Linked DNA regions of Homo sapiens. The protein of the gene in region 1 interacts with the protein of each later gene in a biochemical or structural test. Each region holds a gene or a part of one and is shown in the gene's direction. Other genes may lie near its edges.

Region 1 (7,027 bases):
TTCAGCAGCCTTATAGACCAGTGTGATATTCTTGCTGTCAAGGACAGTTTGGGAAATCCTATGTGAGCATCTACTCATAATTGCCTTAAGTGAAGTAAACCAAAAGTTTGATAGCATTCTTCTTAGTATGCTTGGTAGTTTTCTTAGATTTATGATGAATATCCTTGGGCAGTAGTGATCAGGTAGTTAAGAAACCCCTATAGATACATGATAATAATTCTCCTGTCTTGTTGTCTCTGAAAGGCCCACCTGTAGATCCAGATGAAGACTCTGACAACAGTGCAATTTATGTACAAGGATTAAATGACAGTGTGACTCTAGATGATCTGGCAGACTTCTTTAAGCAGTGTGGGGTTGTTAAGGTCAGTAAAAGCATAACCAGGTCATCTGGCAGAACTTTAAACCACAGAGCATTTTAAAGAGATTGAATTGATGTTGAGAGTTGTTTTCTAAGGTTGCCTTTGCCTGACTTCTTTCTAGGTATCTTATGGTTTGTTCCTTTTTAAAAAAGATTAGCCTTTTTTTTTTTTTTTTTTTGAGACGGAGTTTCCTTCTTGGTGCCCAGGCTGGAGTGCAATGGCGCAAGTCTTGGCTCACTGCAACCTCTGTTCAAGCGAATCTCCTGCCTCAGCCTCCCAAGTAGCTGGGATTACAGGTGTGCGCCACCAGCTAATTGTGTCTTTTTAGTAAAGATGGGGTTTCACCGTGTTGGGCAGGCGGGTCTCAAACTCCTGACCTCAGGTGATCTGCCCACCTTGGCGCCTCCCAAAGTGCTGGGATTACAGGTGTGATCCCCTACGCCCGGCCTTCCCTCCTCCACCCCTAGGGACAGAGTGTTGCTCAATCTCAGCCTCCCAGGTTCAAGTGATTCTCCCACCACAGCCTCTTGAGGTAGCTGGACTTATAGGCACATGCCACCACACCCAACTAATTTTTATATTTTTAGTGGAGATGGATTTTTGCCTGTTGGCCGGGCTGGTCTCTAACTCCTGGCCACCTCAAGTGGCCACCTACCTCAGCCTCCCAAATTGCTGGGATTACAAGCATGAGCCACTACACCCAACCTCAAATTATTGTGTCTTTATGCTAATTCTTCATAGCTAGTAACGCAGATTTTTTCTTCAGGGATTTTGACTGTTTTTCAGTTCTTGCTCTTCTGTATTAGAGTTAGTTTATGAACCCCATAAACCTCAAAACCTTAAAACCCCAATTGAATATTTACTAAATCTATGAAGTAATTTCAGGAGAATTTACATTTTTATGATACTGAGTGATCTTTTTTTCCCCATGAAGATTTTATTTCTCCATTTATTTGTATATTTATTTGCTTATTTATTTACTGAGACAGTCTTGCTGTGTCACCAGGCTGGAGTGCAGTGGCACGATCTCGGCTCACTGCAGCCTCTGGCTCCTGGGTTCAAGCGATTGTCCTGCCTCAGCCTCCTGAGTAGCTAGGATTACAGGTGCCCGCCACCACACCCAGCTAATTTTTGTATTTTTAGTAGAGATGGGGTTTGGTGAAACCATGTTGGTCAGGCTGGTCTTGAACTCCTGACCTCAGGTGATCTGCCGCCTCAACTCCCAAAGTTTTGTGATTGCAGACATGAGCCACTGTGCCTGGCCTGTCTCTATTTGTTATTTTATTTTACTTTGAGACAGAGTCTCACTCCTTCACCCGGCTGGATTGCAGTGGCGCAGTCTTGGTTTACTGTAACCTCTGCCTCCCGGGTCTCCTTGCCTCAGCCTCCCGAGTAGCTGGAATTACAGGCGCCTGCCAGCACCCCTGGCTAATTTTTGTAAGTAGAGATGGGATTTCACCAGGTTGGTCAGGCTGGTCTTGAACTTCTGACCTCACGTGATCCACCCACCTAGGCCTCCCAAAGTGCTGTGATTACAGGTGTGAGCCACCACACCCAGCCTATTTAGATCTTCAGTAAAGACTATCGATTTCCTTAAAGGTCTTGCAAATTTTACTAGTTTTACTTCTAGGTTTCGTTTATTTTCAAGTTGCTGTGGTTAAGGGTCTTCGTTAAATGACACTTTTCTGGTTATTACTGGTGTATAGAAATACAGTTGATTTGGCCGGGCGCGGTAGCTCACGCCTGTAATCCTAGCACTTTGGGAGGCCGAGGCGGGTGGATCACGAGGTCAGGAGATCGAGACCATCCTGGCTAACACGATGAAACCCCGTCTCTACTATAAATACAAAAAATTAGCCAGGCTTGGTGGCGGGCACCTGTAGTCCCAGCTACTCGGAGGCTGAGGCGGGAGAATGGCATGAACCTGGGAGGCGGAGCTTGCAGTGAGCTGAGATGGCGCCACTGCATTCCAGCCTGGGTGACTGAGTGAGACTCCGCCTCAAAAAAAAAAAAAAAATACAGTTGATTTTGGGCGGGCGTGGTGGCTCATGCCTGTAATCCCGGCACTATGGGAGGCCGAGGTGGGTGGATCACGAAGTCAAGAGATCGAGACCATCCTGGCCAACGTGGTGAAACCCCGTATCTACTAAAAATACAGAAATTAGCCGGGTGTGGTGACACGCGCCTGTAGTTGAGCTACTTGGGAGTCTGAGGCAGGAGAATCAGTTGATCCCAGGATGCAGAGGTTGCAGTGAGCTGAGATGGCGCCACTGCACTCCAGCCTGGCGACAGAGCAAGACTCCATCTCAAAAAAAAAAAGGAAATACAGTTGATTTTGGTAAATCTTATATAAGGTGATTTCTCCCTGCTTGTAGGTGTGTGTGTGCACAGATATCACACACACCTCAAAAGTAAAATGCTTTTAGTGTCTACTGTCACATTCTACCCTGTGCAAGACTCCTTGTTTGCTTTTTTGTTTTGAGATGGAGTCTTGCTCTGTTGCCCAGACTGGAGTGCAGTGGCACAATTTCAGCTCACTGCAACCTCCGCCTCCTGGGTTCAAGCCTCAAGCCTCTTGAGTAGCTGGGAGTACAGGCTTGAGCATATTAAAAAGACTGCTTTTTAATATGTATATAACATGTAGTTTATTGAGGAATGTGGAGTTTATCCTGGTTAAGAAAGTAGTATTTACCATCAAAATTTTGGAAATAAAGATGTTAAAATAGATTTCCAAGCTGGATACAGTGGCTCACATGTGTAATCCCAGCACTTTGGGAGGCCAAGGCAGGAGGATCCCAAGGATTGCTTGAGCCCAGGAGTTTGAGACCAGCCTGGACAACAGAGTGAGACTCTGTCTCACAAAAAAGAAAAAAATGCATTTCCACATTATTCATACCACAGTTTTGCCATATTTTCTTTTCAGTTTTTAGGTATCACGTTCCTTTTTTTAAGTCAGAGGTATCAATATATATATCCTGTTGTAATCTTTTTTAAGTCCTATAAATAGATTGCTCTTGTGTTACTGGATATATGTAAACAATTACAGACTAAACTGATCGTGTGCATATATAATGCAAAAAAGTACACGTGAAGATATTCTTATACAAGGTAGCTCCTGAATTCAAGTCAACCACATCTGATATTCAGCTGAAAGACTAGTCATCTGTTCTAACTGGAGGAAGTAGTGGCTGTGTTAGACTAACCAAGAATCCCTGTAGTTCACTCACAGCCTGTACACTGTCCTTCACGGTTTAAGGATAATTTTCTTTATGCCAGTCATGTCTTATGTGGTGGTATCAAAGTCTGACTACCCCTACGAGGTGGCTGTGCTCAGTGGATACCTGTCTGGGCATAGAAAATGCCAGGGCAGGCAAACCAGCATCAGAAGATGGCTAAGGCAGGAGTGGGGCCTATCCTGTTCACTTCCACACTTTGGTCTACTTTGGTTTTTATGATAAAGCAGGGATAGAGGAGAAAATAACTTAGAATTCTGAAAAACTTAAAAGCGGAGAAACGGTGACATTTAGTGACTTACTACATGTGAGAAATTGGTACTTTTCCTGGATTTTGCCTGGACTTTTTTCTCCCAAATTAGTATATTCTAGTCATGCCTAACTATGCTATTCTTTGTCTAGATGAACAAGAGAACTGGGCAACCCATGATCCACATCTACCTGGACAAGGAAACAGGAAAGCCCAAAGGCGATGCCACAGTGTCCTATGAAGACCCACCCACTGCCAAGGCTGCCGTGGAATGGTTTGATGGTGAGATGTACTCACTGGCATTCTTAATCTCCCTGGCTATAGAATATGGCATGAGGGAGAAACTTGTGAACCATAGGAGCAAGAAGACCTTCCATCTCTTCCTGGGGGAGGTAGATGGCCGGTCTCCCTGCAGTAGTAGTAGCACCCAGCCATTGACCCTGGATTTGGAGATCCCTTTATTTTGAGGCATTAGTATTACAAATCAACCTTGCTTAAAGTGGCAAACACTTCCTAAGCACAGATTATCAGAAGGTACAGAAAACCCTTCAAAAGAACATCTTAGCCAGTGTACATTTGCATATAGATAAATATATATATTTAAATGAGGCCTTGACATTAATGGTGGGATTTCACTTCAGACAAAACCAACTTGAAAGCATTGAATGACTTGGCCATGTCCAGTGGCTTGCACCTGTAATCCCAGCACTTTGGGAGGCCAACATCGGTGCATTGCTTGAATCCAGGGGCTTGAGACCAGCCTGGGGAACATGGCAAAACCCTGTCTCTACAAAAAAAATACAAAAATTAGCCAGGTGTTGTGGCACACTCCTATACCTATAGTACCAGCCACTCAGGAGGCTGAGGTGGGAGGATCACTTGAGCCCGGAGAGTTTGAAGCTCCAGTGAGCTGAGATTGCACCACTGCACTCCAACCTGGGCAACGGAGCAAGACTCTGTCTCAAAGAAAGTGTCAAATAACAAGTCCTGGTTCTGTTTTCTTGGTCATGCAGTCAGCTTCCCACCAGCTTATTTTCCTCCTTATGGTAGACAGTGTTTTTTGCTTGTGTTGTTTTTTTTGAGATGGTCTCACTTTGTCACCCAGGCTGGAGTGCAGTGACACAAGCCATCTCAGCTTACTGCAACCTCCACCTCCCAGGTTCAAGCCAATCTTGTGCGTCAGCCACTCGAGTAGCTGCTGGACTACAGGCGCATGTCACCACGCTGAGCCTAACTTTTGTATTTTTTAGTAGAGATGGGGTTTCACCATGTTGGTCAGGCTGTAGGAAGGTTTTTAAGTGTATTTAAGTATGGCCTTTTTCTGGCCAGGCACAGTGGCTCTTGCCTATAATCCTACCACTTCAGGAGGCCAAGGCAGGAGGATTGTTTGAACCAAGGAGTTCACTAGCAGCCTGGGCAACCTAGTGAGACACTGCCTCTACAAACAATTTTGTAAAATTAGTCGGGCATGGTGATGCGTGCCTGTAGTCCCAGCTACTTGGGAGGATTGCTTGAGCAAGTGAGATTGAAACTGCAGTGAGCTGTGCCACTGCACTCCAGCCCGGGCAACAGAGTGAGACTCCCATCTCAAAAAAAGCCTTTTTCTGGCCTTGTCATTAAAGATCTTAGAGAAGATTACAGGCAGACCTAATGCATCTGGGAGTGGTCATTTGATGATGATGTGGAGTTGGTGAACAGGGAGTACAGGGGAGTAATTGATGTTCTGTTGTCTTGTTCCAGGGAAAGATTTTCAAGGGAGCAAACTTAAAGTCTCCCTTGCTCGGAAGAAGCCTCCAATGAACAGTATGCGGGGTGGTCTGCCACCCCGTGAGGGCAGAGGCATGCCACCACCACTCCGTGGAGGTACTTTTTCTGAGCTCCTATGTTGCATTAAAAGGTTTTCAGTACACTTCATACCCTTGAGAAACTTGATTATTAGAGTGAAGAAATATAAAATTGTGTGTAGAGTCAATACTAGACTATCGAGAGCTAACAATGAATGTTTGTTGGGAATAAAAGGAAGAGAAGAACATGGGAGGCTGGAAGCCACTCTGCCTGTCAACTCCAGACTGCCATTTATTCAGCTTTGGTTGTGTCTGTATAGACATGCCTATTCCTTACAGAATTGTGGGAGTTCAGCCAGGTGCAGTGGCTCACGCCTGTAATCCCAGCACTTTGGGAGGCTGAGGTGGGCGGATCACCTGAGGTCAGGAGTTTAAGACCAGCCTGGCCAACGTGGTGAAACTCCCTCTCTACTAAAAATACAAAAATTAGCCGGGTATGGTGGTGCATGCCTGTAATCCCAGCTACTCGGGAGGCTGAGGCAGGAGAATTGTTTGAATCTGGGGGGGTGGAGGTTGCAGTGAGCAAAGATCGTGCCACTGCACTCCAGCCTGGGCAACAGTGTGAGACTCCGTCTCCAAAAAAAAAAAAAAAAAATTGTGGGAGCTCTGTTTCTGTAGAGCACGTGGAACACGCTCCTCACAGGGAAGGGGGCTGATGGCCTGAGCCACACGGAAACACGGGACAGGTGATGGGGAAATGACAGCAGTAGTATCTGTGGGTTTACTTAGTGATTTTTATTTCCTATAGCAAATTTGGTGCTACAGAGAAATGATTTGCTGTTTCTTGTTGTTCTTGTTGTAGGTCCAGGAGGCCCAGGAGGTCCTGGGGGACCCATGGGTCGCATGGGAGGCCGTGGAGGAGATAGAGGAGGCTTCCCTCCAAGAGGACCCCGGGGTTCCCGAGGGAACCCCTCTGGAGGAGGAAACGTCCAGCACCGAGCTGGAGACTGGCAGTGTCCCAATCCGTATGTACTTGTCTTGGCAAATTGATACCCTACGAGTGAAGCCACCCTTCCCTCACCCCATCCCCACTCTAGAGTGGATTGCTCTGTCTAGAGGAACAGAATGATGACCCTGATGGCTGGTTAGGGACACTAGTCAGCCATTCACTGGACGCTTCAGAGCCTTCTGAAGATTGATTTGACCTGTCCTGTGGGTGCAATGCTGCCTGAGGCTGTGCCCTAAAGCATGGGTGTACATAGATCCTCTTGATAGTGAGTGTGTACCTGTTCACACACCACCTTTCCTTGTTTATCTTCCTTAGTTCAATTGGTGATTTCTGCTGTGATGTAATTGTATGCAGGGGTTGTGGAAACCAGAACTTCGCCTGGAGAACAGAGT
Region 2 (5,570 bases), on another chromosome or scaffold:
TCATTATCTTATTCCTACAGCTAAAATTTAAAATTTCCCCCATCCTGCCCTCTCAGACCCCCAGGCCACTGCTGGGTTTCTCCTCCCCCCAATATTTATACCAGTTATTTCATTTTCTTAATCCTTCTACTGAAATTTCCCAAACAATATTCATGAATATCCCTTTTTATTCCTCTTCCGAGAAACACAGGCCCACCCTGTGACATATCTGACCAGCACTAAGACTTCCACAGAATGCCCTAGTGCCTCCACACTCCCAGAACTGCCCTGGTCATATGCTGCACACCCTTCATAGTTTATGGCATTTATTCCATTTTCATATTTTATTCCTTGAGCTCAACCCTCCAGAACAATATTAGTAATGAGGCTATCTCACTCTGCCCTCTGGGAACACTAGGTCATCTCTGAGACCCACCAGACCTGAAAAACCCCAAACATGCTCTGTGACCCAGCAAAGCCAGCCTTGATATAGGCCCCCTCCCAATATTTATACCAGTATTTTTAATATTCTTGTCTAATTGCTGTTAGTTACTTCATTTTCTTACCATTTTAGCTTCAACCTCCACAGTGGTATTAATAATGAGGCCTCCTCACCCTCTCCTCTGCAGTGACCTTGCCCTGTTCCACTTCTGTATCATTAGCTTCAAATAATCCTCTGTATTAATAATTCATCACCCCATCCATCTACATTAATTTACTTTCTTCCAACATTTATATCAGTTACTTCATTTTCTTGTCTTATTGCATTTGCTAGTCTCCAAAACTGTGTCCTGACAGTCACCCACAAGGCCTGGCCCTGTGAACCTCTGGTTCTTGGAGCCAGGAAGAAGACCTGCTCCCACACCTACTGCCCTTCATGGGCCCCATTGTGAAGAGGAGCTACAGTGTGGAGGGAGTGGGAAAATCAGATAGACGGACCTGGAGAGTGACAAAGGGAGGCTTGGAAAGGGGTGGATGGGAAGGGGCTTAAAGAAAAAATTATTGTGGAGAGAAGAGAGAAAGGGGAGGAACTGGGGAGGGATATAGATAAGGGGAATCTGGCGGGAGAGGAAAGAGGTAGAAACCAATGGGAGAGGAAATGGGCTGAGAGAGAAACTTACAGAGGAGGGACGGGAAAGCCGGAGAGGAGCAAGTGGGAAGAAAGCCACTAGGAGAAGAGAAATGCCACTCCACCCCCCTCCTCCCCCCTGACACCCTGCCTCCAGCCTGCCCCTTTCCTCTAAGGCCCTCTGTTCCTCTCCTCCCTTCCTAGAACATCATCCGCAAGGTGAGCGGCCAGAAGTTCGTCTACAAGTTTGTGTCCTACCCTGAGGTCGCAGGGTGCTCCACTGAGGACTGCCCGCCCCAGCCAGAGGTGTCTGTTACCTCCACCATGCCAAATGTGGCCCCTGCTGCTATACATGCCGCCCCAGGGGACACTGTCTCTGGAAAGCCAGGCACACCCAAGGGTGCAGGAATGGCAGGCCCAGGCGGTTTGGCACGCAGCAGCCGGAACGAGTACATGCGCTCGGGCCTCTATTCCACCTTCACCATCCAGTCTCTGCAGCCGCAGCCACCCCCTCATCCTCGGCCTGCTGTGGTGCTCCCCAGTGCAGCTCCTGCAGGGGCAGCAGCGCCCCCCTCGGGGAGCAGGAGCACCAGTCCAAGCCCCTTGGAGGCCTGTCTGGAGGCTGAAGAGGCCGGCTTGCCTCTGCAGGTAAGGACTGGAATATAGAAATTCAGTAAGAGGAGGCAGTAAAGAGGAGGGATGTGTAATCCCCGGATGACGAGGGAGGCTGGTAGAAGAGACATAGCTGTCCCGTTAAAGGAGATAATGGTGGAAGGAAGACATCCTCTTAGAAGGAGGGGTGGGGCAGAGAGCTACACAAATCCTGAGACAGAAAGGGGAGAATACTGTGCTACAGTTAGTAGCTGCCGAACATGTAGGTGCCTGGAATATGTTTAATGCACTGGTTCTCGCACTCTAGTGCTCATCAGAATCACCTGTAGGTCTTGTTAAACCACAGATTGCCAGGCACACCCCCAGAGTTTCTGAATTTGTGGGGCTGGGGAGGGGCCCAATAATTTGCATTTTTAACTTGTTACCAAATGAGGCAGATATTGCTGGTCCAGAGGAAGGTAAATTTTTGAGAACCACTGTTTTAATGAATGAGGATGGTATCCCTCAGATTCCTACCCGCTTCAGGTTGTCTCACCCCAAGTCCCCTGTCCCATAGGAGGACCTGCCCCAGAGGAAGCCCTACTTCCTTGACGAAGTCCTATGTCCTGTTGGAGGACTTGCTCTGATGTGCAGTCATGCCCTGAGTACCAAGTGCCACCTTCCCGGGGAAATCACTGGGTGGCCCACAGGAGAATCCTGTGGTCCCAACAATCCTTACACACCCTCTTTGTGCCTGCTCCTCTACCAGGTCATCCTGACCCCGCCCGAGGCCCCAAACCTGAAATCGGAAGAGCTTAATGTGGAGCCGGGTTTGGGCCGGGCTTTGCCCCCAGAAGTGAAAGTAGAAGGGCCCAAGGAAGAGTTGGAAGTTGCGGGGGAGAGAGGGTTTGTGCCAGAAACCACCAAGGCCGAGCCAGAAGTCCCTCCACAGGAGGGCGTGCCAGCCCGGCTGCCCGCGGTTGTTATGGACACCGCAGGGCAGGCGGGCGGCCATGCGGCTTCCAGCCCTGAGATCTCCCAGCCGCAGAAGGGCCGGAAGCCCCGGGACCTAGAGCTTCCACTCAGCCCGAGCCTGCTAGGTGGGCCGGGACCCGAACGGACCCCAGGATCGGGAAGTGGCTCCGGCCTCCAGGCTCCGGGGCCGGCGCTGACCCCATCCCTGCTTCCTACGCATACATTGGTGAGTGCCTGCGGAGGGGTGGGGTGTGTGGGCGCCAGCACCAATGGGATTGGCATGTGGCGGGTGACTGACAGGAATCAGAGGAGGGTGAGTGTGGTTGTTCCTGAAGAGGGTGGAGCCTTTGAGTGTGATTGACTGGGCTGATGCTGGCTGGAGGGATGGGGTTTGATTAGTGAAGGGCAGGGCTGGGGACTTTTGTGGGTGGGACCGAGGGTCTTTCTGTGGGACTGTTTCTAGGTTGGGGTGTGGCTTAAGGAACCTGAGCAGGGCTTTTTGGTCTGGGATGTGCATATGGGGTTTCATGGGTGGGACATGAGTTGGAAGTTGACCCTGAGCTGTTGGGATGGTGACTTGAGAGGTTTGAGAGCAGCATTTGGATAGGGTCTTGTGGGTGGTCTTGACCAATGAGGTCTCAGCAACTGAGGGTGGGCTCTCGGGAGTGGGGAGTGGGGGGTGTCTGCAGAGTTTGAGAGATCATAGGCATGGCCTCCATGGTTACCATCTAGGTGTGTGCACTTTGGGGAGTGACCCTGGGAGTGTGAGTGGGAAATCTGTGGTGGGGCCGGGACCAAGTCCCTTCCAGCATCCCACATCTACTTTCTACTCACTTGAGCTCCGACCACCCTCTCCCCACAGACCCCGGTGCTGCTGACACCCAGCTCGCTGCCTCCTAGCATTCACTTCTGGAGCACCCTGAGTCCCATTGCGCCCCGTAGCCCGGCCAAGCTCTCCTTCCAGGTAGGATCCTCTTTCCCCGTTTTGGACAGGGTGAGAGACCCAAGAATGGCCCCCATCTGTGACCTCTCCCTCTTTTTGCCCCCAGTTTCCATCCAGTGGCAGCGCCCAGGTGCACATCCCTTCTATCAGCGTGGATGGCCTCTCGACCCCCGTGGTGCTCTCCCCAGGGCCCCAGAAGCCATGACTACTACCACCACCACCACCACCCCTTCTGGGGTCACTCCATCCATGCTCTCTCCAGCCAGCCATCTCAAGGAGAAACATAGTTCAACTGAAAGACTCATGCTCTGATTGTGGTGGGGTGGGGATCCTTGGGAAGAATTACTCCCAAGAGTAACTCTCATTATCTCCTCCACAGAAAACACACAGCTTCCACAACTTCTCTGTTTTCTGTCAGTCCCCCAGTGGCCGCCCTTACACGTCTCCTACTTCAATGGTAGGGGCGGTTTATTTATTTATTTTTTGAAGGCCACTGGGAGGAGCCTGACCTAACCTTTTAGGGTGGTTAGGACATCTCCCCCACCTCCCCACTTTTTTCCCCAAGACAAGACAATCGAGGTCTGGCTTGAGAACGACCTTTCTTTCTTTATTTCTCAGCCTGCCCTTGGGGAGATGAGGGAGCCCTGTCTGCGTTTTTGGATGTGAGTAGAAGAGTTAGTTTGTTTTGTTTTATTATTCCTGGCCATACTCAGGGGTCCAGGAAGAATTTGTACCATTTAATGGGTTGGGAGTCTTGGCCAAGGAAGAATCACACCCTTGGAATAGAAATTTCCACCTCCCCAACCTTTCTCTCAGACAGCTTATCCTTTTCAACCAACTTTTTGGCCAGGGAGGAATGTCCCTTTTGTTCTTCCCCCTGAGAAGCCATTCCTTTGTCTGCCAACCTCCCTGGGGTCCTGCCTGTTTCCTCCCAATGGAGGGTTTTTTTGGGGGGTGGTCCCCGTCTGGGGGGCCCCTCCAGCCAGTACTCCAGGTCTCCCTGTCTCTCCCCCGCTGCCATTTTGATAGTATAATCTATTTTTAAATGGGGCTTTTCAATAGGGGAGAGGGAGTCATCTCTTCCTATATTTGGTGGGGTGGGTGGGAAGGAAGGGATTTGGGGGGGAATCTTCCTGCCGCCTCCCCCACTCCAAGTGTTTATTTTTGATACCAAACATGAATTTTCAGTTCCCTCCCTCCCAGCCCCCCAATTTCCTGCGGGCGGGTACAAAGGACCCTTTCAATGTCCCTGGAGTTGGGAGGGAGGAATGGGGGACATAAAGCCTGTCCTGTCTCTATTCTAGGCAAGAGAGAGTGGGTTCAAAAGACTCCTGGGCTCACCTGTTAGCGCTGGCCCAGCCCAGGCCTTGGGACCTGGGGGTTGGTGATTTGGGGGACAGTGCTACACTCGTCTCCACTGTTTGTTTTACTTCCCCAAAATGGACCTTTTTTTTTTCTAAAGAGTCCCAGAGAATGGGGAATTGTTCCTGTAAATATATATTTTTCAAAGTGATGCTGGAGGCTGCTGGCACTTTTTCTCTGATGTTGTCAGGACTAGCTGAGCGTGACACGCATGACTGTGTGTGGAGGGTGTGAGGCAGAGGTCGATTGTGAGAGAAACGGTGTGATGGCGTGTGTGAGAAACAATAGTAGGGACTGCATATCGGTAACCATGTGTGTGTCAGAGACGTGGAAAGCTGTGATTGTGTGTGAGAGTGTGCAGAAGTTGTGACCACAGACTTTTGATGGTGTGTCTATGTGGGAAATTGTGGCTGTGTTTCAGAAAATAACTGAGCCTGGATGAATAGTCAAGGTACTGTACAAGAACCTGTGATGGTATGCACAAAATAATGTCTACGAGAAGGGAACGGGGACTGCAGCCCTGTCACTGTTTGATGGCGAGCAAGACAGACTGGGTGACCAAAACCACATGTGAGAGACTACGTGGGCATGAAACTACAGTAGAGGTTGTCAGGGATTGTGGCAAAGATTGTGTAGGTGACAAACCTCACT
Region 3 (7,027 bases), on another chromosome or scaffold:
GGGGGTCAGGGGGCTTCATAGGCTCATAATATGTTCCCATGCCTGTGACCCTCATGCCTCCTCTTGTGTGGCACAGGACCTGCTCTCTGAAAGAGTGAGGACCTAAAAATGATCACTAACTTCAGATCCTACGGGCATCAGCTGACCCTGATGGATGCACTGGAGGCTCAAATGAGGTTGAGCTGGCCTGATTTGTTTAAAAACAAAAATGACCATTAATGAGAATGACTAGATTTCTGTAAGAACCACTCAAACCAAAAAGAAAAAATTCCACTCAAAACCATTTTTAAAAATCTGGATGTCTCACTTACAAACTTGAAGCTACAGGAGAAGTTTTCCCAATTTAGAGTCTATTGCTCCCTGCTGTGCATTTAGTTCTGATTAATCATTCTGTAATTTACCAGCCAGAGTCCTGTCATAGTTCGTTGAACAAACTTTCCATCATCCTTCTGGAATAAAAACATGGATCCGGACGGTGACCTCAGTGCAACCTTGAGTTGATGCAGTTTTAGTGACTTGGGGTCCAGATTGGGCATGGAGCTCTGCAGCCTACGGCTGCTCGGAATCTTAATATCAATAGCTTAGACCCCCTTGAAAATCCTTTGCATGGAGGAGAAGGGAAGACTGCTGCTGTGTGTGCCCACACACTTCCTTGAGCCAGCCTAATGCCCTATGTTGGCCAATAGCCCCTAGTAAGTTGGCATATGCCCCACCATGACAGGTAGCATTTTGTAGATTGGAAAATTGAATCTGGAAGTTTAAGTGGTTGCTGGTGGTGACTACAGACTGCAGGAAGAATATTCATGGTGATTCAGCTGGACAGTTGTATTTGGCTGCACAGAAAGAATGTGACCTCTTAAAAATAAAAAATAAAAGGACCCAGGAAGTGTTGAAAATGACAGTCAAACTGGAACTTGGAGGCACCATCTTTTTTTATTGATGCCAGCTGTCTCCACCAGTGAATCTTGCAGAATGCCTTACACATAACAAGTGCTCAGTACACATTTGAAGAACCGCAGCTTTCTGGCACTGCAAAGAATTTCAGATTCAACCTCCCTTCTTTTTTTTTTTCCTAATGAGGAAAATAAAAGAGAGGAGATGTTTGATTGAGATTAGCTGTCACCTGGAACAAGAGCGTAAGTTGCTGCCTTTTAGGATTCCAGCATAAAGTTGTGCAGGTTGAGCACAAAAGCACCGGAGAAAGGGGATAAATGGAGTCTAAAAGCCAGTCCAGCACTGGATTGAAGGGAGATGGGTCCTTTTCCTTTGACAAAGGGCTCATCTCCTCACCAAGCCAACTGTGGGGCCATGTCCACACTGAGAAATGTCTGCACTTGAATAGATGTAGAAGGGTGATGTTAAGAGAACAGAAGTCCAGACTGTTGAGGATTTTATAGGGTTAACTGATTCCTTCTGCCTTTTTGCAAGCAGAGATTGTGATTTTTGCTATTCTGTGACCCCCTATATCTAGCTATCATCTATCTGTCTTCTATATCGTCTGTCTATCTATCAATCATCTCTTGTAATCCATATTGATGAGGTTACAGCAACTAATTGATAAGAGGGCTAACACAGAGAACATGAGCAGCAGTAACTCTCTTTGGGGGACACCTGAGGAATATTTCATACATACCTGTTTGTTAGACTTGATGATGGATTACTCCTTGTCTGTTTCCTGCAGCTCCTAATAGAGTCCTGTCCACAAAAATTGTCATGGGTGGAGCCTTGTACTAAACACTCAGGGTAGAGGTCATGAGGCCCCGGAGGCAGGAGAAAACATCTTCTAGGGCTACAGAGAGGTCATGATATAAATGCAGGAGGAGGAACTGACCCATAGCCACACAGACACAGGCAGACATTAGGGAAGAACCTTCAAGAAACGTGCAAAGAAAAAAAAGTAAGGGAGGCCATTAAAGACAATTTTTAAGTTTACAAAACTAAGGCAAGCCAGGCTTTGCATGCAAATGATTAGGCAGGTGAGTCATGCATATATTTGTCAGTTCTCTTTCAAAATAAGAAATAAATTAGGCACAATGTTTGCATTTTAAAAAATCCTTTACTTTGCCACTCTATGAATTTTCTTAGTGCACCCTGGGCCCTGCTCTCAGTTGAGTTCCTGCCCTGGGGTCTCTGAGACCCAGAGAAACTTCAACACCTACCCCTCCCACTCCCACCAAAACTTTTGGAGAATAGCTCTTCCTGCTCATACTTTTTAATGGTAGGGGCTTTTGAGCAGTAACCAGTCAGGAGGGCCACCCAAGACTGAACCTCACTGTAGAGTGACCAGGGTCAATGCATGTGTACAAAGTGTCTTACTCCTTGTAGAGCAGGCTGTATCCAATTAAAGCTTGATTAAATACCACATAGTGGAGAGTAAACTGTTATTAGAAGCTGCTAATGGACACTCCATCACCTGCATTATTCACTGTGAAGAAACTAAATAAAGCCAGCAAACGGTGTGCTCTTTGCCATCCAGGAGCCTCAGTCCAAATTAATTTTCATGAAACTCAGATTCTAGGCAGATGTGGTTCTTTTGATTTTTACTCCTAAGTACAGGCCATTGTTTGTTTTTCCCAGCAAAGCTCAGGCATTGTGTGAGTTTTTTTCAGAGGATATTGCAGAATGAGAGTTTCAGAGCATGAATATATGTAACCTTTCAAAGGAAATGTTCAGAAAGAACAAACCAACCAATACATCAGCCTGCCAATTTAACAGTGGTATCTAAACTAGCTTGCTCAGATCTTTACAGCAACAAATACAAAAAGGGACTCCAAAATTATGTGTATGTCTATGTCAGTTTATCAAAAACTCAACTAAGAAGTGTCTCCTCCCACAGAGGAAACTGAAGTTCTTGAAGGTGACTCATAAGAAGAAGCCACTGGGGACAGGGGCTTTGACCCTGGCCCTATCTGCTTCCCCTCTCCATCTGTGGATCAACAAGCAGGAATATGTCAGATAATGTCCACCTTCTGTTGAGCTTTAGCTATGGGCCTGGCACTCCACATGTGTTATTTCATTTGATCAATACAATCACCCTCTAAATTGATATTGCTTTTCATGGTTGTTCACTTGGGAATTGGAGTTTAGTTAGGTCAAGTAACTTGTCTAAAGTCGTACAGCTAATGGTGAGAAGATCTGGCACTTAAACCTAGGTTTCCCTGACTGCAGAGCCCATGCTCTCATCAAAATATCAATTTCCTCCCTCACAAACACTAGAAGGGCACCCATTTGGTATTGAGCCTGGCTGTGAACAAATGCAAAAGCAATAGAGGAGGCATCTATGCTTTCTTTGAGTTTGAATTGTCATGGTAACCTAACATAGGGGTGGGGGCCTTGAGAAGAGTTTTAGAGTCATGTCATATCAGATCTGGGCTCTGTTTCCACTGCTGCTACTCAACCTCTCTAAGCCTCGGTTTCCTTAGTTGTAAACAAAAATAACAGTTGACCCCGACTACCACAGGGGTTAGGGGTGCCAATCCCCCACACAGTTGAAAATCCAAGCATAATTTTTGACTCCCACAAAAGTAAGCTACTATCAGCCTACTGTTGACCAGCAGTCTTGCTGATAACTTGGTCAATTAACACACATTGGCTGGCTGTGGTGGCTCATGCCTGTAATCCCAGCACTTTGGGAGGCCGAGGCGGGTAGATCACCTGAGGTCAGGAGTTTGAGACCACTCTGGCCAACATGGTGAAACCCCGTCTCTACTAAAAATACAAAATTAGCCGGGCGTGGTGGCACATGCCTGTAATCCCAGCTACTTGGAGGCTGAGGCAGGAGAATCGCTTGAACCTGGGAGGCGGAGGTTGTGGTGAGCAGAGATCACGCCACTGCACTCCAGCCTGGGCAACAAGAGTGAAACTCCGTCTCAAAAAAAAAAAAAAAATTAACACATATCTGGTATATGTATTATATACTATATTCTTACCATAAAGTAATCCAGAGAAAAGGAAATTGTTAAGAAAATCCTAAGGAAGAGGAAATATATTTACCACTCACTGAGTGGAGTGGATCAGCATGAAGGTCTCTGTCCTCATTGCCTTCACATGGAATAGGCTGAGGAGGAGGGAGAGGAAGGGCTGGCCTTGCTGTCTCAGGGGTGGCTGGAAGAGGTGGAAGGGGAGGCAGGCACACTTGGTGTAAATAAAAAAAAAAAATCTGCGTGTTCGTGGACCTGTGCAGTTCAAAGCCAGGTTGTTAAGGGTCAGTTGTAATGTGCTTACCTCACAGGGCTGTTGGAAGGATGACGTGATACCACGCATATAACGGGCTTAGCGCTATGCCAGGCACATAGTAATGGCTCAATTTATTTTACAGGGAAAACATGCAGGTAGTTTTCAATTATGTTGGTATAAACTAGTTTGGTAAAGGGTGAGCTACATCATATCCTAAAAGTAGAATCAGAATAGGGCTGAAACCTGGAGATCTGGCCCTGAAGTGAGGTGCTTGTGGTTCCTGGGTGGGGTCCCTGCAAAGTATGGCCCTGGGGTTCTTATTTTCCAGTCATCACCATATTTAAGGGTAAAGTGGAAGAGGTGGAGCTGCCTGTGGAGAAGGTGGACATCATCATCAGCGAGTGGATGGGCTACTGTCTGTTCTATGAGTCCATGCTCAACACGGTGATCTTTGCCAGGGACAAGTGGCTGGTAAGTGTCCTGCATGCTGTCCCCGCGTTGGCCGGCTGGCTGTCCTGCTCCTCTACCCAAGGCCTGCAGCCTAGGAGGCATACGAAGACTTCAGAGAAGACTGAGGCCAGGAGGTCACTGCCCCAAGCCCCTCTCTCTAGAGCAGATCTGTATCAGGGAACAGAATGGTTGCCCCGGGTCCAGCATGTGTAACCATCAGAGTGGACTTCCGTGGGTCTCACCGCAGCCTCTTTTGCAATAACAGACATCCGTTCTCTCTTGTCGAGTTAAAGGTCCGTTTCGGTCAGCAAGTACTTAGGACTTGCATGGCTGCCAGAGCCAGGTGTGCTATTCATCTGGGCTTCTCCAGGCCAAAGTCGTAACATCTCTCACTGCTCCTCACTGGATTTACCTTCACCTCACCTCATTTGTCCTATTGACTCCACCTAGGTCCCTTAAATTTTCCTTGCTCCAAAATAAAAATTGAGCACTGCTGTCCTAGCCCTCACCCCAGACAAGGTGACAGTCCACTGCATGAGAGATGGTGGCAAGGGGGTGCTTGTCTGGTGACTCTATGTGCAGTTCAAAATGTGATGTCTTTGTCAGGTGAATAGATTACGAGACCCATTTCCCCACAATTCATCAACAGAAACCTGGAGGGCTTATGTTTCCAGACCGGGCAGCTTTGTACGTGGTAGCGATTGAAGACAGACAGTACAAGGACTTCAAAATCCACTGTAAGTCCCCTCTTGCTTCTCCGGTGGACTTCCACTGCACAATTGGGGTGGGAGGCACTCCAGTGGGCCCGAGATGAGCAGGCAGTGACATGAACACCATTGCTGTCCCTGAAGAGGAGCTTATCTGGGACCCTTTCTGGAGTCTGCTCTCTAAATGTTTCTATCTAGTCCCAAGGGTGTTAGGTCTACAGACAGAAAATAAGCCATATGGCTGGGATGAGAGAAATGTCCTGGGGTGAAAGAATGAATGCAATGTGAATTAAAAATTGGACTGAGGCAGCAGAAGCTGAGTTTTTGCAGAGATCAGCAGGGCAAGTGGCTTGAAACCTGTCAAGGTTCAGTTAGCCCAAAAGTCCACCGCAGGGGTCTGAAGTAGCAGGTCTCTTGCCAGGCCAATTGTTTTGAATCCTGCCTCCATTCCATTCAAACTTATCAAAATAATATTGATTCTCTTATGCAAATACATATTATTTGAGGTTCTTTTGAGGAATAGATAGCAGAGGGGGTGGGAAAGAGTGGAGATTTTGCTTTGAACAATCAAACGAAAGGCGAGTGTGCATGTGTGCATGAGGCAGGGGCTCGTATCTAAACATGTATTCTTAATGCCTTATCAGCTAGGCGTGTGTGGTTCTCTGAGAACAATAAAGCCAAAAAACTTCTCCTCCCCCGCAATGTTTTACCTGGTCTGAAAAGGGCTGTTATCCTATTTCTCGTAAAGGGTGACACTTCTCTGTGACACAGGCCTGATCCTTAATGAGATTATACCAAACATGTTTTTGTAAAGTTGAACATGGCTGTGTCTCCTCAACCAGAACCAAATACAACAAAGGAGCAAAGAACCCCTCAAACAGGCAAACACCCAAAAATCCAAATTAAAGCAAGAGGCAGAAGCTCCAACCTATCCATCAGACTGGGCACATCTGCGGTTCCTGCCCCAACAGGGTGGTCCATTCCTACTTGGCAAGATTACTGTGGAGGGGTTCACAGATTGAGTAGAAGAATAAATGCCTCCAAGAGGCTAAGACTCCATCCACAGTTCAACAAATTGTGGCTCTGTGGATTTAAACAATTGCCATCTAATCGTCGTTAGTGGCACTGATGAAAACTCGGCTGGACTCTGCTATGGATGTGTGTATTTGTGTGGGTTCATGCCTTTCTGGAAATATAAACTCAAAGTGTGAAGTTCAGAGCCAGGTTCAGAAGAAGACAAAAGTGGGACAGCTGTTTGAAGCTCTGTGCCCTGGAAACCGTCTCTGGTTGCTGTCTGCCTCCAGCCAATCTGGTGTGATTTCCACTATTTGACCTCCTGGGGGAAGGAGGCAAAATACCAAATGAGGACAGTGAGAGGCAGGGGGGCCCAGGTTAAATGCTTTGCACACTGCCAGCCCTGGGTTTAAATCTTGGCTTTGCCATGTCCTAACTGGGTAACCTTGAGCAAATTATCTAATACCTTTGGGCCTCAGTTAAGGGATAATTTTCTCAATCCCACAGACTTGTCATGAGGATTAAGTGAGATGACATATATTAAAGGACGTGACAGTTCTTGGTCCTATAATGGGACTAGATGGGAACTAGTTTCTGACTGTGTAGCTAAGCCCCTTTCTGCCCCTGGCTCTGGCAAGTGAGCCTGACTGCCAAGCCCCTGGTGGCTCAGAATCTAGGAC
Region 4 (7,456 bases), on another chromosome or scaffold:
CGGGAAATCTCCGAGCCTAAGCGACCCGGAACGTGGCCCGGAGAACTCCAACCTCAGCTCTGGGCTGGGTCCCGCGGGCCTCGGAGGGCAGGCCACTGCCCGGGATGGCCCCCAGTGAGGCCAGCGAGGAGCCCAGTAGCTATCGCCTGGGAGGTAGCGGACCAAGATGCGCGACACTGGGATCAAAGCAGCTCAGGCATGACCCTGGGAAGGCGGCCCAGAGGGGAAGCGAAAGTTCCACCGTCCTTTCTCCATTCCTTCCTCCATTCCACCCTTCAGTGTCAGAGCCCAGGGCGCCGGGACAGCCCAAGGGCAGCCCCTGTTCTGAGACCCGAAGATCTTACCCATATCCTGCTCCCCTGCTGTCTGCCCTTTCACATGTGCTTAAAACAACCTAAGTGGCCTCTAAAGCCAGCCGACCCTGGGCCCTGGGGGCTTCTCCTGCATGCAGGGCGCTGGCTGCGTGGTGAAATGTGCCTCCTTTCAAACTAAACAATTGCCTACGCACAATGTAGCTCCCCGAGTCTGCGAGAAACACAGCTCCGGCTTCGGCCACCAGAACCCAAGGTGGCCGGGCCTGCAAGTGGGGCCCGGTTTCCAGAAGGAGCGAGGGGCCCGGCCCCCCTCCCCTGTATACCCACTACCGCCACGCACTTATGTCGAAGTCCCTCAGACCCGATCCTGAGTCCCTAAACCCCAACAGACAACTCGGGTTCAACCCCTCGGAGGTGAGAAGGTGGGGCGAGTAGTGGCTGCGGAGTCAAATACTAACTTTCTCCGCACCCGGTCGGAAGGAGGATGTCAGTGCCCAGGTGGGCAGCAGCTATCAGGCGCGCTCTCCAAAAGTGGAGGATGGGAAGTTGGCGGTTCAGGTCAAAGGTGAGGAGCGTTCACCCCAGACAGTGCGGATCCTGGCACAAAACCTCTCCCGCCAGTCCTCACGCCAACCAACGAAGGTCTGCTCCCTTAGGTCGGGAAAAGGGCGCTGCCAAAGGAAACGGGAAGTGAGGCCTGCCAAAGGAGGAGGAGAAAATTAATTAATGAGGGAAAGAAATGTGTCTCTGATCCACATGATAGACTCCCTGTCCCTGGGGGCGGAAATTCCTTGGAAATCAATAGTTGTGCATTCATTATCCTTCTCTTGATAAAATGCAAAGCTATGAGATGAGGAGGAGGAGGAGATCTGTGTTGGTCATTAAATAAGAAGGAAAAAAAATTGCCCAGGAATCTATGCCAAGGCTCAGACCCCATGTGGGTATCATTAGCACAGGCAGGGGCCAACGAGTTACAGCAGTTGCCAAACCAGGAAAACAAAACAGTGACATATGGGTGAGCTGAGCCCAAGCCCACCACCTTTTCCTTTTACGCATCAGGAGGAAAGTAGGGAGAGGCTTGATATGGTCCAGGGAACTGCCTGCAGATGTGCCAGCATGCCCTATTCTTTAGCCTGGGCTGAGAACCAACGAGGATGAGGCATGATAACTGTCCAAGCATCACCCGCTCCATATTTCTATACACATCCCTCTCATCACACCTGTTATACCTGTGTCATAGATGCCTTTTATCCGTGGCTTCCCCACGCACATACACTGTCACCTCCTGCAGGGCAGGTACTCATATTGTATACCTCATTTTATCTCCAGTGTCTTGTACTGGGCCAGACTACCGCTCAGCAAGAATTTGAGGAAGGAAGATAAGGTAGCAAGTTAATGAGGGCGGAGTGAAATAATTGGCTCCTGAAAAAGAACAGGCTGGAATAAAAATTTACAGCTCTGCCTGGGGAAAACACACCCCTCCTTTTTAAGGAGAATGTAGACCCCCCCATCCCCCCACCCAGGGATCTTCCTGCAATCTCCAACCAGCCCTGGATTGTTGAACAGCCCCTAGGCCACCACCCCTCCCCCAGGCTACCCGAAACTGGCCTCTCTTCCTTCCTACACACGTGTTTTTTGGTGGGGTACTTTTCCTGTGACAAACTCTGCACTAAGTGCTATAGTGAAGATGGATGTATCCTAGATGGGCTTCCTATCCATGGTGGGAGGGGGAGGGAGGATTGTACCCATAGCCCTCATGTTTCTGGTCCCATCAAAACACCCAATACCCCAAGCAAAGATCTGGCCTCACCCCAAGGTGGGGTATTCCTGTTGTCGAAAGAGAGGTGAACAGGGAAGGAAATCTTGGTGGGACTAACTCCTAACTTCAGGCTAAGGTGGCATCTCTCCGCTGGGTTTAATGGAAGCCTCCCAGGGTTGGAGGGTGAACCGAGGTGCCTTTTGGGTACTCAGGAGCTCACCTGGCTCTCAGAGGCCCCACCCGGCCGCAAACCTGTACTGTTTACCTTTCTGTTGCTCCTGTACCCTTCAGGGTCCCTAAAGACCAGCGCTTCCTTGAGAGGGGAGGGGCAGGTTCCAGGCCCTCACCCTCTGTGGGGGCCTTTTCTTTCCCGTCAAGAGAGAGCGCAGGGAACGGCCACCAGGGGTGTCAGGAAGGACTAGGTTAAGCCCGGACTCCCGGTGTGATGACTACCGTAGGACTCACTCTTTCCCTCTAGCGACGTCCTGCTCATCGTCCACTCCCCGTTGAGATAAAGTTGCATTTAGCGCTCCCAGGGGACTGCGTAATGGATGGAACCAGCTCCTTCTCTCACCAGCAAGTGAACATCCTTCTCACTTCCCTCTGGAGCTAGAAGGAAGGGAGGGGGTGGGGGGGAACATGAAAAGAAAGAAAGAAAAAGCCATGGTGACGCCTGTGGGCTCTTCTTGGAATCTGAGTAGGTGAGTGGGTATGCTAAACACACATGCATTTGTGCAGAGGAAAGATAAAATCCACGGGAACGCAAATTTAGGTTTATAGAAATGAGATCTGCTCTTTGGTGGAAATACAGACTTCCTTGGTGTGGGAGAGAACAGAAAGATTATCTGATTTCTGCTTTCCATAAGCAGCCCCTTGCTGCTCTCCAGCTCTCTTACCGCAGATGTGATAACATCTGGGCTGTTAGGTTATTATCACCGCGAGCAAGTGCTCCTTCCCTGGGGACTTTGGCACCTGAACTGTGGCTCCCCTGGGAGGCTCTTGATCTGCTACCACATAAGGGCCATATAACAGGTTGGCTAATTGATTTATTCTTTTTAGGTCTTAATTTCACAATAATTTTTTAAAAATTTAAAAACTGGACCAGAGCTTGTCCCCGTTCTTTCAAATTGGCTTGATTTAATATTTTTGAATCAAGCTTTCCTGTAAGTTAGTTTGATCTGTCTCCTATTGAAAAAAATATATATAAGCAGGCAGAGATATGAGGCAAAAAGCCAAAAAGATGGAAGGGAAAAGAAAGTTCTCTTTTCAACATCTTATTCCCTTTTCTCTGAAGCAGTTTTCCTGGAGTTCCCAGCATAAAGTGTGTGTGTGTGTGTGTGTGTGTGTGTGTGTGTGTGTACGCTGAGGGGAGGAAGGATCCCAACTACACCCTGTTAACTGTTTTTTCCTTTTGATTACTAGAAGCCTTAGATCACCCGGAGCTCGTTTGAAACGTGGGTTTGTACACGGTTGAAGGAGACAAACAATAAGAGAAATGCACAATTTCATTTCAACAGCTTTTCCCGAGTAGAAAGCACACGCTCCTTGTGGCTCCTAAGTGGCTGTCACTGGCGGTGCCTGACACAGTTATATTCACAACAACAACAAAAAAGTATGCGGAGGAAATTAAATTATATGGAAATCAATAGCGTCTGACTGCTTCAAACAAATGTCTGTCACCGCGATTATTCTCCAGGAACCTATTTATAAACCTTTAAAGAAACAGGTTCTTGCAGCAAAAGACAGCACCTTCTGCATTTCTGTGTTGTTATTTATACTGTATACAGAGGAATGCGCGGGCATAATTTAACGTAGAAATGTCCAGCTGTATACATTATACAACAGCTTGTTAGGCATCCCGAAGAGGAGGAATGCCTAAGTAATGCTCATATATTCAAGGCTTGCTATCAGGGAGAAGAAACATACACACATACACACACACGCACGCACACACACACACACACACACACATAGAGGGGCGTGCGCGCATCTCGTCTTTTTTATTCTAAAAGGTGCCCACCCTTAGACAATAGCTGGACCTTCTGATCTTTCCAGACCACGGTGGGAAAGGTGAGGCGGGCAGTGCGCATGCCCGGGTAGCTACAGGTGCATCACCTGCGCTGTCCTTGCTGGTGGTCACTATAAGAGCGGCTCCCACGCGCTGGTCGCGGCCGGACGAGCGCGCGCGCGCGCAGACGCACGGGGCCGCCGAGAAGGAGAGCGCGCGTCAGACAGACGGAGACAGCTGATGCCTGTCAGCGCGGTGGGGCCGCGAGCTCTCGCGAGAGCTCCCCGGGACGGCCGCGAGAAGTGGGGCTCAGGTGTTAGAGGAGTGCATCCCGTCGGCGCGCGGGGCTAGAGCTGTCGGAGAAGCGGGACCGCGAGGCCGGCGCGCGGCGCTCTGCGCGGTCAGAGGGAGCGCCTGGCAGCAGCAGGAGCAGCAGCAGCAGCCCGCGGCGGGGCCGCCGCCAGCCGCCGCGACCGCCGCGGCTGCAGCCTCCGAAGGGAGGCCGGGTGAGCCGGCGTACGCACTTTCCCGCGGACTTTCGGAGTGTTTGTGGATATACATGCCAAGCCGCCACGATGATGTCCATGAACAGCAAGCAGCCTCACTTTGCCATGCATCCCACCCTCCCTGAGCACAAGTACCCGTCGCTGCACTCCAGCTCCGAGGCCATCCGGCGGGCCTGCCTGCCCACGCCGCCGGTAAGCGCCCCACGCCCGCGGCCCCGGCCCGCGCGCCCGCCCCTCCCCGTCTCCGAAACGCTGCATGTCGGGGGCTGGTGTGTGCAGGTCCCGGTGCGGGGAACTGCGGGCAGGGGGTGTAGAGCAGTCCCGCAGCGAGGCACGTTTTGTCCGGCGGCCCTTAATGTCGTGTTCCTGTCTGCCTCTGCCTCCGCGTCAGGCGCCTGCGATCGGAGTAGGGAGCGCTGGGGCCAGGACTCTCGACTTCCCTCTACTTTCTCTGTTAATTTCACGCCTCAGAAAGGCAGTCTCTGTGCGTGCTCGGGTGTGTGACACGGGTCCCCAGCTGCGAGTTACATTTCCATTTCTTCTTTTCCCTCTTTTTCGTCTCCCACGCCCGTTTCCGGAATGTGTTCTTGTGTCCCCCTTTCTCCCTACTTCTGTCCCCCTCTCCACGCTCCCATCCCTTCTCGTCTGCCCCCTCCCTGGTCGTCAATGTGCCCCCTCTCCGTCTTTCCCGCTCTCCACTGCCCCCAAACCCGTTGTTATTTTGGTTGCTTTGTGTTTGCCCTTCGCATGCTGTGCTTTCCGGCCTGTGTGTGTGTTTCTTCTGTTGTTTTGTTTTGCTCTTTTGGTTTTGTGGTTTTTTTGGTTTGGTTTGTGTCGCCTGCAGCTGCAGAGCAACCTCTTCGCCAGCCTGGACGAGACGCTGCTGGCGCGGGCCGAGGCGCTGGCGGCCGTGGACATCGCCGTGTCCCAGGGCAAGAGCCATCCTTTCAAGCCGGACGCCACGTACCACACGATGAACAGCGTGCCGTGCACGTCCACTTCCACGGTGCCTCTGGCGCACCACCACCACCACCACCACCACCACCAGGCGCTCGAACCCGGCGATCTGCTGGACCACATCTCCTCGCCGTCGCTCGCGCTCATGGCCGGCGCGGGCGGCGCGGGCGCGGCGGCCGGCGGCGGCGGCGCCCACGACGGCCCGGGGGGCGGTGGCGGCCCGGGCGGCGGCGGCGGCCCGGGCGGCGGCCCCGGGGGAGGCGGCGGTGGCGGCCCGGGGGGCGGCGGCGGCGGCCCGGGCGGCGGGCTCCTGGGCGGCTCCGCGCACCCTCACCCGCATATGCACAGCCTGGGCCACCTGTCGCACCCCGCGGCGGCGGCCGCCATGAACATGCCGTCCGGGCTGCCGCACCCCGGGCTGGTGGCGGCGGCGGCGCACCACGGCGCGGCAGCGGCAGCGGCGGCGGCGGCGGCCGGGCAGGTGGCAGCGGCATCGGCGGCGGCGGCCGTGGTGGGCGCAGCGGGCCTGGCGTCCATCTGCGACTCGGACACGGACCCGCGCGAGCTCGAGGCGTTCGCGGAGCGCTTCAAGCAGCGGCGCATCAAGCTGGGCGTGACGCAGGCCGACGTGGGCTCGGCGCTGGCCAACCTCAAGATCCCGGGCGTGGGCTCACTCAGCCAGAGCACCATCTGCAGGTTCGAGTCGCTCACGCTCTCGCACAACAACATGATCGCGCTCAAGCCCATCCTGCAGGCGTGGCTCGAGGAGGCCGAGGGCGCCCAGCGCGAGAAAATGAACAAGCCTGAGCTCTTCAACGGCGGCGAGAAGAAGCGCAAGCGGACTTCCATCGCCGCGCCCGAGAAGCGCTCCCTCGAGGCCTACTTCGCCGTGCAGCCCCGGCCCTCGTCCGAGAAGATCGCCGCCATCGCCGAGAAACTGGACCTCAAAAAGAACGTGGTGCGGGTGTGGTTTTGCAACCAGAGACAGAAGCAGAAGCGGATGAAATTCTCTGCCACTTACTGAGGGGGCTGGGAGGTGTCGGGCGGGACAGAATGGGGAGCTGAGGAGGCATTTTTGGGGGGCTTTCCTCTGCTTGCCTCCCCTCGGATTTGGAGTGTCCGTTATCCTGCCTGCATTTGGGGAGTCCCTTCTCGCTCTCTTTCCTCCACCCATTCTCTGATTTTCCTGCCTTTGCTGTCCCCTAGCCTTGAGGACTGGGGTGCTGGGTGTGGGGATTGGAGTATAGGGTAGGGGAGAAGGGGGGGAGCATTCGGGGGAGTGGGGAGTGGGGGGAAGGAAAGCGGAGACCCGAGCAGGGGTTTTAAGGAGCAGGATGGTTCTGGGGTTTGGGTGGGGGGAGACGCGGGAAGGGTAGGAAAATGGACTGTTTCTGACCAGAGACACTTACCTAAATATCCTGGGGACCAAGGAACTATGTACAAAAACAAACCTACCAACCACCAAAAACTAGACAAATAAAGACAAACTAAAACAAAACAGAACAAAAGCAAAGGAAAATGCTTTAGAAATTTTAACTCCGGGGAGCCATAATCTGCAACTTCATTTTCCCCCATAGAAGAGAAAAAAGAGCACCACCATTATTACCACCTCCCCAACCCTACACGCACGAACTGAGTCGAAAAACGAAAACCAAACGAGCGAGAAGTTGAAGTTCTGGGTATCAAAGCTAGTTGTTCTGTCTGCGTGTTTAATTTTTCCCTCTCTCACCTCCACCCCATCCATATCCTCTTTATTTCCTCCGTTCCAATGAGAGGCCTATGGCTGCTCTCCAATCCCGGGAAGTGAGTGGGAGCACAGCTGAAAAGAGAGGGTCAGGGGGAGGCTGGCTGCTTGCTTAGGTGGAATCCAAGTTTTCCCGTGGCCCTGCCTATACTCTGGTGGCCTGGTCCT

Evidence for each region.
Region 2: the proteins of EWSR1 (region 1) and ELK1 form a complex in vitro, tested with the Homo sapiens proteins (one study listed by BioGRID).
Region 3: the proteins of EWSR1 (region 1) and PRMT8 form a complex in vitro, tested with the Homo sapiens proteins (one study listed by BioGRID).
Region 4: the proteins of EWSR1 (region 1) and POU4F1 form a complex in vitro, tested with the Homo sapiens proteins (one study listed by BioGRID).

What each region holds. Positions count from the first base shown.
Region 1 is NC_000022.11:29,292,245-29,299,271, forward strand, and holds part of EWSR1 (RNA-binding protein EWS), read left to right. Parts: intron 1-243; coding exon 244-362; intron 363-3,994; coding exon 3,995-4,124; intron 4,125-5,582; coding exon 5,583-5,705; intron 5,706-6,488; coding exon 6,489-6,651; intron 6,652-6,950; coding exon of another isoform or gene 6,951-6,989; coding exon 6,990-7,027. UniProt on the Homo sapiens protein: Binds to ssRNA containing the consensus sequence 5'-AGGUAA-3'. Might normally function as a transcriptional repressor. EWS-fusion-proteins (EFPS) may play a role in the tumorigenic process.
Region 2 is NC_000023.11:47,635,021-47,640,590, reverse strand, and holds the end of ELK1 (ETS domain-containing protein Elk-1), read left to right. Parts: intron 1-1,252; coding exon 1,253-1,696; intron 1,697-2,408; coding exon 2,409-2,840; intron 2,841-3,476; coding exon 3,477-3,578; intron 3,579-3,663; coding exon 3,664-3,762; 3' UTR 3,763-5,070; downstream 5,071-5,570. UniProt on the Homo sapiens protein: Transcription factor that binds to purine-rich DNA sequences. Forms a ternary complex with SRF and the ETS and SRF motifs of the serum response element (SRE) on the promoter region of immediate early genes such as FOS and IER2.
Region 3 is NC_000012.12:3,564,202-3,571,228, forward strand, and holds part of PRMT8 (protein arginine N-methyltransferase 8), read left to right. Parts: intron 1-4,504; coding exon 4,505-4,647; intron 4,648-5,232; coding exon of another isoform or gene 5,233-5,275; coding exon 5,276-5,363; intron 5,364-7,027. UniProt on the Homo sapiens protein: S-adenosyl-L-methionine-dependent and membrane-associated arginine methyltransferase that can both catalyze the formation of omega-N monomethylarginine (MMA) and asymmetrical dimethylarginine (aDMA) in proteins such as NIFK, myelin basic protein, histone H4, H2A and H2A/H2B dimer.
Region 4 is NC_000013.11:78,600,527-78,607,982, reverse strand, and holds the start of POU4F1 (POU domain, class 4, transcription factor 1), read left to right. Parts: upstream 1-4,430; 5' UTR 4,431-4,656; coding exon 4,657-4,779; intron 4,780-4,828; exon of another isoform or gene 4,829-5,431; coding exon 5,432-6,568; 3' UTR 6,569-7,456. UniProt on the Homo sapiens protein: Multifunctional transcription factor with different regions mediating its different effects. Acts by binding (via its C-terminal domain) to sequences related to the consensus octamer motif 5'-ATGCAAAT-3' in the regulatory regions of its target genes.